Linked DNA regions of Homo sapiens. The protein of the gene in region 1 purifies or fractionates together with the protein of each later gene. This does not show direct contact. Each region holds a gene or a part of one and is shown on either strand. Other genes may lie near its edges.

Region 1 (5,376 bases):
CACTTTCAAACCTCCCTAATTCAGTTGATCTTAGACTAAAATTCAAATAAATGACTACTTCTGGAAGTTGCCTAAACCCAAAGAATGGGGTTTTGAGAGTCTGTAAGTTAACTCTAATCGACAACAAATTGTAGTTGTAACCCATGGCATAGGTCTGTTCGAGGGAACGTAGACTAATCTGGAAGAATCAGTGTACAGAACTGCTGCTAAGGCTGGGGCTGGTCCAATAGGCTGTGATCCCTAACTACAGTTCCATAAGACAGCCTATTTCTACCATGATGTCAATACCTACTCCCCTTTTTAAACTTAGGATTACAGCTTCATCATATAGCAAAATAAGAATTCAAATCAGAATGAGAGGCACACAGAGCAAGGTGTGGGAGGGCTCCAAAAATGGAGCTTCCTTCAGTCTCAGGGATGCAAAGCCCTTCTGGCACATCACTGTGTCCATATACAGAAGATTGCCAGCCAGGGAATTTCACCTGTAATCTGAATTTTCCAGCTGCTACAGGAGGATGCAAATGAGGATACAGGAGAGCTGCTAAAGCCTCAGTGCTCCCCCCCGAACCCTTGGCACCCCTCAGTCCCTAATTACTGCACCTGCATGGGTGGGTATGTGATCTCAGGAGGAGGCTGCCATTTCTGGCACCCCTAGGACCCTGAGGAAACCAGAGAACTCTGAAGTACCCTGTAGGGGTCAAGTCCTATGACTGCACAGATGGGTACTGCACAAGTGCAGCGCAGCGGGTATTCACACCTTAGTTTATGTGAAAGGCACCCTGGAGTTAGGCAGTATCTAACCCATGCAGTCACTTGTGCCAACCCTGGACTCTAGATGGGGGTGGGTAAACCAACCAAAAGTTAGAAAACCACTGCAGGTGGCCCCTGGGAGAGGTGTCCACAGATCCACAAGTGAGCACCGTGCTCATATGCTCACCAGTCATAACAGACCACTCACTCAATGGAGGAAATCCATCAATTGATTTCATGAATGCTGAGAATTTGGCTTCTCTCCATGGAAGGTAAGCAGCAGCATGTTCCCAAGGGAGGTTCTAGAAGCTAATCCTATGCAGGCATGAAGTTAGAAGCTACCTGCTTACAAAAATTAGAGAAACAAGGGAGTCTCCAAACCCTATTTGACCCAGCAACACCTTTTCTTCTAGCTGGGCCTAAATACCCCATGCAGCAAAAATTGCATTAACAAGTTTCGCAGCTATCTTGAGGACGTTTCTGTTAAAATCTAATTATTTCCAGGGAGCAGCTGACTGGCACCTTCCTTGTGGCTTATAAACATTGCCTAGACTTGCGTGTCTGTGAGGGTCAGGGTCGCAAGGCAAGCCAATGTCAATAGGGGGAACATTTAGTGACAAGACTAAATGACAGAACAAAGCATTATCTATGGGAGGCTCCTACAGCAAATGACTGAAAACAGGGATGTAAACTAATAACAGGTACCTTTTGTTAAGGAAGCTCTGCTCCCATCTCTCCACCAGGAACCTAGAGACTAACTACAGTCCCCACATAGAGATCTCCTTTTAGCCTTCAAAACAGAGCAAGGGCCACTCCAGACCCATTTTCAAATGCCCACCTTCATCGTGTGTGTCGGAAGAGTCACTGAGCTCAGTGGGGATGTCCTCATTGTCATTGAAGTCCAGTGAAGGGGAGTTCACAGGAGCGATCATCTCAATCTTCTCCCCCATGATGTTGTCAATGGCGAGCTCCTTTTCCAGGGACCCGTCTCCCTCCAGCGCCTCTTCCTCCAGGGGCAGCCCATCAAACTGGAGCCAAGACAGAGGAGTCACCCACCAGGGAAACCTGGTCTGGATCTATTCTCCAAAGGGAGATTAGGGATGCAGCCTTGGCAGCTCTCATACTCCCAGCTCAGCTGCTCAGGAGCGAAGTCAGAGTCAGGCTCCAAAGCCCTTCCCCAGAGCTGCCACAGAGGATGGGCAAACACAGTACAAGGACTACTGCACTTCTCACGCTCGCCATTCCAACAGCACAACAAGCTCCCCAAATGCACAGAGCTGGTCCCCACAGGCCCAGGCCCTTTCCTGGAGCCGCACCTGCACCATCCTGCAACAAGGTCAGCCTGCCTCCAGGTAGTACCTGTTTATCCTAAGAAGCTCGAAAGGCTTCATAAGCATTTTTTAAAACTCATTCTCTCATTAGCCCTGGAAGGGAATCGATACAACTCTTTACATTTTAAAGATAACCTCAGAGATGGAAAATAAAGACCAGGTATCCAATGAATAATGTTTTCATTCTGAAGGCAGGTGGTCTGATCCATAGCCTACTGAAATACAAGGCTCTTTGAGGGAGTCCTTTCCTGAAGAACCCTACCTGTTCTTCTGCCTGCCAGCACATGCCCTGACCCTCTTTCCTCATCAAGGTTCTACCTCCTCTATTAACAGAGTCCCACAGGACAGAGGTTCTCTTACACATTTTTATGGCTTCCATAAAGTCTACCACAGTGGAGAAATAAGCCACAATACGTATACTCAACAAATATCAACCAAATGAGTGGATAAACAATTAATTGTTCTATAGTTCTATATTCATGCATGACTTTGACGTCAGATCAAGGCAGTGAAAAAATACCTGGAATTGTTCTCTACCAGAAGGGCTGATCAGCAGCAGCCCAGCACAGTGGGCTTGAAATGGTTTTCATCTGCTCAGAAGTCAAACCCAGTCTTGTACCCCAGGCACCTAGCCCCAGCTCTGGACCCCGGGCTATGCCACTAGAATACGGAGAGCCCATCTGCTCCAGAATGCCTCCTTGAAGAAACTGACAACAATGTAACCAATCTCCTCTCTACCTGCTCCCCAGATTGGGTTCCCAGTGAACTATGCTAGGAAACGCTGGCCACAGGACTGGGGGTAGAAGTCAAAGGCTGACTGCCCATACCGAGACGGGGGCCTCACTGCTCCCTGTGGATGTTAGTGTGCTGTTGGTGATGGATTTCTTGGGCAGCTGTGGACTGGCATCTGGCTTGGTCTCTATGCTGCTCTTGGATGAGCTGTCATTCACTTCATTCTCTTCCACAGGGATCTCTTCACAGTATCTGAGAGGAGACACCAGTGAGTCCACATTACCCTCAGTGGTTCAAGATGGCCAACTATTCTAAGAATCTCAGACCTTTCTATCCATCCATATCTATGAGATTTCCTGCTTCTTTGCTTTGTGTATGATCTTCCTCTAACCAAAAATCCCCTGCCTACCCCATTGCTCTTCTGAAATCTCCTTCATATCCCACCCCACCCCTCCCTGCCCCCCATGTAAAATTCCTGGCTGCAAACTCACCTTTCCTAGGCAGCCTCCTTAGAGTTATCCCTACCTAACTGAAAGGATTATTTGTCTTAAGCTATTTTTTTTCCATGGGTGCCCATCCTATTTGAAGCCTCTGAATCAAATATCTGGGTTCTGAGCATGCATTTCCTTTCCCAAACGGTGACGAAGACAGGACTCTGGACATGAGCGCTCCTTAAGTGGCATTGCCCAAATTCTTGATGATAACTAGAAAACTTCCCTGCATTATACACCTAGAAAGAAAACCTCCTTGAGATGAAGGTGGGTGCTCGTCGAGGAACACTTCAGGGATGCCGCTGTAGCCTCCTCTAAGGGAGCAATCATCAGCCTATCATCATCACCATCATCTGACCTGTACTTAACAAATCCAGATGCTTGACAACTCTCCGGAAATCCTTATGTGCATTTTGGAGATAACCAAATGGGTATTCATAGAGGTTAAGCGACAACACTATTATTTCGACTGAGCCCAGACCTAAGCACAACAGACATTCAATGTTCTTTTCTTGCTTTTTTCCCTGTATGCCTCTTGCACGACCACCAAGCTTGCAGCTAGCTACCCTTCCACCCTCAAGCATGCTTTGTGCCAGTCTACAGGCACATCTTCCCATCTTGCTTAACCTATCGACAGCATGTGATACAGTGACAATACCTTCTGCTTCACTTCCTTCCCGTGGCTGCCAGGATAGGAAACCTTCCTAGGGCCTTCCTCCCTCACTGCATGTGCTTTCAAGCTCTCTTCAGCTGCTTCTTTCCCTCACTGAGTGCTCCCAGGCAGTCCTTGAACTCCTTTTTAGGTTCACCGAGTCACTTGAAATTTCAGCTAGTCTCATGACTATCCACTAATAATTGCTGCGTTTATGGCCTCAGCCCAGGCTTCCCTGTGCACTCCACACTCCATATCTAAATGCCCACTTGGCATCTCCATTTAGCTAACAGGCATCTCAATTTCAACTTGCCTAAAACTACCCTCCTGATCTTTCCCCTGAAACCTGCTTTGCCTACAGTACTGTCCATCTCCGTTTGGAACAATGCCATCCTTCTGGGCAGTAAAACCGAAAAAATCTGAAAGCCACCTTTGGTTCCTTTCTGTTCCATCAACATATCCTTCAAAATCTATTCAGGAACTAAACACTTATTGCCACTTCTCCAAACAACCACCATCCCTCATCTAACTATCTAAATTACTCACCAGCCTCTTCACGGGTTTCCCTGCCTCTGCCCTGGTTCCCCTTTAATGTATTTTCAGTGCAAAGACCAGAGTGATCCTGCTGAAATGTTAAATCAGACCTTAGCAATTATCTTTGCCAAACTTTCCCATCCCACTCTCAGTAAAAGCCAACCATAAAGATGGCCAGGCCCTTAGGCTCTGCCCCCTCGAGCTCCCTGACCTCACCTGTGACCACTTTCCCTCCTTCATTCCACAGTTCATTCCATGGCTGCACAGGCATGTGTGCTGTTCCCTCTGCCTGGCAGGTTCTTCCTGCAGGCACTCGCACGGCTGCCTCTGGGCAGCCGCCCTTGGCCTCACTCACCCCATTGTGTTGAAGTCGTCGTCAGGGGGCACGTAGTCCTCGTCATCACTGGTCAGGCCCAATTCGTTCCCATAGCACTGGTGAACAAAGTGCCAGAGCTCCTTGGGACACAGAGGCTTCAGGGGAGAAAAGGAACGACTGAGCCTTGCTCCCTCAGGTCCCCCGACTCTGCACAGAGGCACTGAGCCGGGCTGGTTCCCCTGGAGAAGAGGAGAAACTCCTCTCTCCTTAGCTGAATGAGAGGCGAGCCACCACCCCCATCTGCCTTGGGGGTCTCAGCAGGACACCAGTCTTCTGCCTAGGAATGTGGACTTTAACAAAGCCAGGAACTGGCCTTTCAGTGCCCAATCCCTCAACAGAGGTTTGTAGAACGTGACCAACTGGCTCCCAGAGGATGGTAACTGTCTCACCTTTTGCTCTTATGGAAAAGGTCCAGCACTGAGTGGCATAAACCCATGTGACTCTGGGGCCAAGGGGATCCCAGAGCTTCTGATTAGCACTCTGAATGAATGCCCAGAGGTCCCCTGACCC
Region 2 (3,500 bases), on another chromosome or scaffold:
GGTGAAGTAAGATTTTTTTATTTTTTATTTTTTGTAGAAGTGTTGGGATTACAGGCATGAGCCACCATGCCTGGCCGTTTGAAGTATTTCTTATATTTGGCTGGGCACAGTGGCTTATGCCTGTAATCCCAGCACTCTGGGAGGCCAAGGCAGGCATATCAGCTGAGGTCGAGTTCAAGAGCAGCTCGGCCAACATCGCAAAACCCCGTCTCTACTAAAAATAGAAAATTTAGCCGGGTGTGGTAGTGCATGCCTGTAAGTCCCAGCTACTCGGAAGGCTGAGGCAGGAGAATCGCTTGAACCCAGGAGGCGGAGATTGCAGTGAGCCAAGATCATGCCACTGCACTCCAGCCTGGGCAACAGAGCGAGACTCCGTCCCCAAGAACGAAAGAATTTGTTATATTTAATATGTTCTACGGCACCTCGTTAAACTTCTGTTACAGAACTCACCTCATTACTTCATTCCGACTTGTATTATCATAAGTGGCTGACAGGTGTCCTTGCTAAACTGTCAACCTCAACGAAAGAACCCTGTTTTAGTCCTTACCCACACAATGGACTCAGCCAGTCCATCCTCCCAGGACCACCTCCAGGAGGCGCAGTCCCCAAAGGGAAGACCACACACAGACATCCGATTCCACCACGAAGTGTCAGCAACATCTCAGGCAGGGCACCCGCTCTGCCGACTGCTGCGGGGGATCAGAGATGGCTGTGCTTTGAAGTAGGATTTCTTCTTCCCTTTCTTTTAATTTTTAAGATTGACATAGAGTTCACATACCATATAATTCACCCACTTAAAGTGTGCAAGTCAGCAGTTTTTAGTATATTCACAACTGTGCAACCATCACCACTAACTGACTCTGGAACATTTTCATCACCCCAGAAAGAAACCTTATGCCCGTTAACTGTCACTTCCCATTCCCCCTCCTCCCAGCCCCTAGAACCAGTTGTCTACTTTCTGCTTCTATAGATTTGCCTATTCTAGCCACTTCATATATATAGAATCATACAATCTGCGGCCTTTTTCATGCCTGCCTTCTCTCACTTAGCACAAAGTTGTCAAGGTTCATCCGTGCTGCAGTGGTATCACAATTTCACTCCTTTTCATGGCTGAATAATATTCCGCTGTATGCCCATACCACATTTCGTTTATCCATTCATCATGTGACACATGGAGGAGGTTTTGAGGGAGGAGTCTAAGAGGTGAAGATCATGGGGAACGGCATCCAAAGCAGAGGGCAAGGTATACTAAGAACAGAGGAAAAGGGAAAGTGTGGGCAGGGCCTCCTTCAGAGGACGCATGGCAGGGTGGGAGGAGGGCAGCAGATACAGCAGGGAAGCATCCCAGGCCACTGCTCGTGGCAACCAGCACAGGCTGGCTGCTTTTCCTCCCTCATCCCTTCTTTTTGGGGAATTTCTTCTGCCGTTTCCTCTCATTTCTTTTTTTATTTTATTTTATTTTTTTTTGAGATGGAGTCTCGCTCTGTTGCCAGGCTGGAGTGCAGTTGTGCAACCTCTGCTCACTGCAACTTCTGCCTCCTGGTTCAAGAAATTCTGCTGCCTCCGCCTCCCGAGTAGCTGGGACTATAGGCGCGTGCCACCACGCCCAGCTAATTTTTGTATTTTTAGTAGAGACGTGGTTTCACCATGTTGGCCAGGATGGTCTCAATCTCTTGACCTCATATTTGGCCTGCCGTAGCCTCCCAAAGTGCTGGGATTACAGGCGTGAGCCACCGCACCCAGCCTCTCATTTTAATTAACAGTTGAAACAATTACATATCAGATCATCTTCATCAGCTCATCTTACCTCCAAGCCACAGAAAGTCATTCACAGAACGCAGCAGCTCCACCGACATGTGGTAATGCACCAGGGAGTCCTGCAGCATCCCTGCCTGCAGGCACAGGTCCCCCACGTGCTTCCGCATGCGGCCTTGGCACCGCTTCTTGTAATGTCTAGAAAATACATGAAAATGTATCTTTATTACTATACAACTCCCACCCAGAAAGCACTCTGACTAAGCACTATTCAATTCTCTCACTACTAAAAATGCTAAGAAGGCAACTGTAGGCTCTATAATTTTAAGTCAGCAATAATCATTGCCAGTTATGTGAGCTGGAGTGGTCTTAATTTCAAAAATGTACTGCCAAGCAATTTGTTTAAAGGTGATCGGTACGTAAGGACTTCTACCATGTCTTTCACGTAGGCAATGTTACAGTTGGATTTTTCTTTTTAGATTTTCCAGTTGTAACATTAGCATAAGGAAGTTTATGTTTCAGCTTTTTAAAAAAATCAATTATCTTCCACTTCTTAACATCAAACCTCTTATTATTTTATAAAGACAGCTATGCTGAGTCTTATTAGCCAACCATTTGGCTTTAGCAAACAAGACGTTCATCCTCGCTATTTCAGGGCAAGCTTTAGGAAAGCTTCCAGAGAGCAGGGCCTGGGGTGCTCACTAACAGCTCTTTAAATATTGGCAAGGATATACCACTAAATAATGCAAAGGCTTCTGAGTCCCTAATCAACTCAGAAACCAAAGAAACTGTACCAAAGTATTCCTTTTATCATTTTTAAATACATCTAACCTTTAAATGTTATATTTCTTAAGATAGATGATTTTTTTTTTAAAGAAAAACTGCAGCTGGATTAAACTTTCCCTCATCAAGAAAGCAAACTTATCAAGAATAAAACTCCTCTGGAAATCCAGAAGATGTGACGTTTCTAAGTAAATGAATGTTATTGACACATCTCAATACAATGTTAAATCCTATCATGTGTAACTCTAACGAGTTCAACAAACTCTTTGTTACTCTGGAATTTAGCATTTCCATTCTGAATAAGTTTTAAACAAAGATCACAACGTAAGGCAGACGCAGAAAGAAAAAGAAACGCCAGCCTTCGTTTGTCTCCTTCCTGGCCACAAGGCAGTGTCAGGATGGCCCCTGCTAACAGACCCTCCCCATAAGAAAATACAGCATCTAGCAGGGTGCAGTGGCTCACGCCTGTAATCCCAGCACTTTGGGAGACCGAGGCGGGCGGATCACAAGGTCAGGAGATCGAGACCATCCTGGCTAACACGGTGAAACCCCATCTCTACTAAAAATACAAAAAATTAGCCGGGCGTGGTGGCACGCGCCTGTAGTCCCAGCTACTCAGGAGGCTGAGGCAGGAGAATCACTTGAACCCGGGAGGCGGAGGTTGCAGTGAGCCGAGATCATGCCACTGCACTCCAGCCTGGGGGACAGGGTGAGACTCCCAAAAAAAAAAGAAAAGAAAAGAAAGGCATCTGAGCTGCTCTTCCCATCCCAACAGCAGTCACCTCAGCAGCCTCCGCCTAGTCTCTGACTCCTCACCCTGCACCCCCTTCCCCTTCATTGCTTCTATACACACACAGCCAGAGTGTCCTTCCCAAAGCACAAATCAGTCTGTGTCCCTCCCCCACTGCAAACCTTTCACAGGATGCTCAATTCAGTCGTAGGGAGAGGCATGCAGTCCATAG

The links. Proteins that work in one complex are often made in the same cells at the same time.
Region 2: the proteins of GRAMD1B (region 1) and TRAPPC9 purify together in Homo sapiens (affinity purification with mass spectrometry; 2 studies listed by BioGRID and IntAct, with this or other methods). This does not show direct contact.

What each region holds. Positions count from the first base shown.
Region 1 is NC_000011.10:123,603,011-123,608,386, reverse strand, and holds part of GRAMD1B (protein Aster-B), read right to left. Parts: intron 4,962-5,376; coding exon 4,846-4,961; intron 3,066-4,845; coding exon 2,909-3,065; intron 1,779-2,908; coding exon 1,589-1,778; intron 1-1,588. UniProt on the Homo sapiens protein: Cholesterol transporter that mediates non-vesicular transport of cholesterol from the plasma membrane (PM) to the endoplasmic reticulum (ER).
Region 2 is NC_000008.11:140,437,245-140,440,744, forward strand, and holds part of TRAPPC9 (trafficking protein particle complex subunit 9), read right to left. Parts: intron 1,954-3,500; coding exon 1,808-1,953; intron 1-1,807. UniProt on the Homo sapiens protein: Functions as an activator of NF-kappa-B through increased phosphorylation of the IKK complex. May function in neuronal cells differentiation. May play a role in vesicular transport from endoplasmic reticulum to Golgi.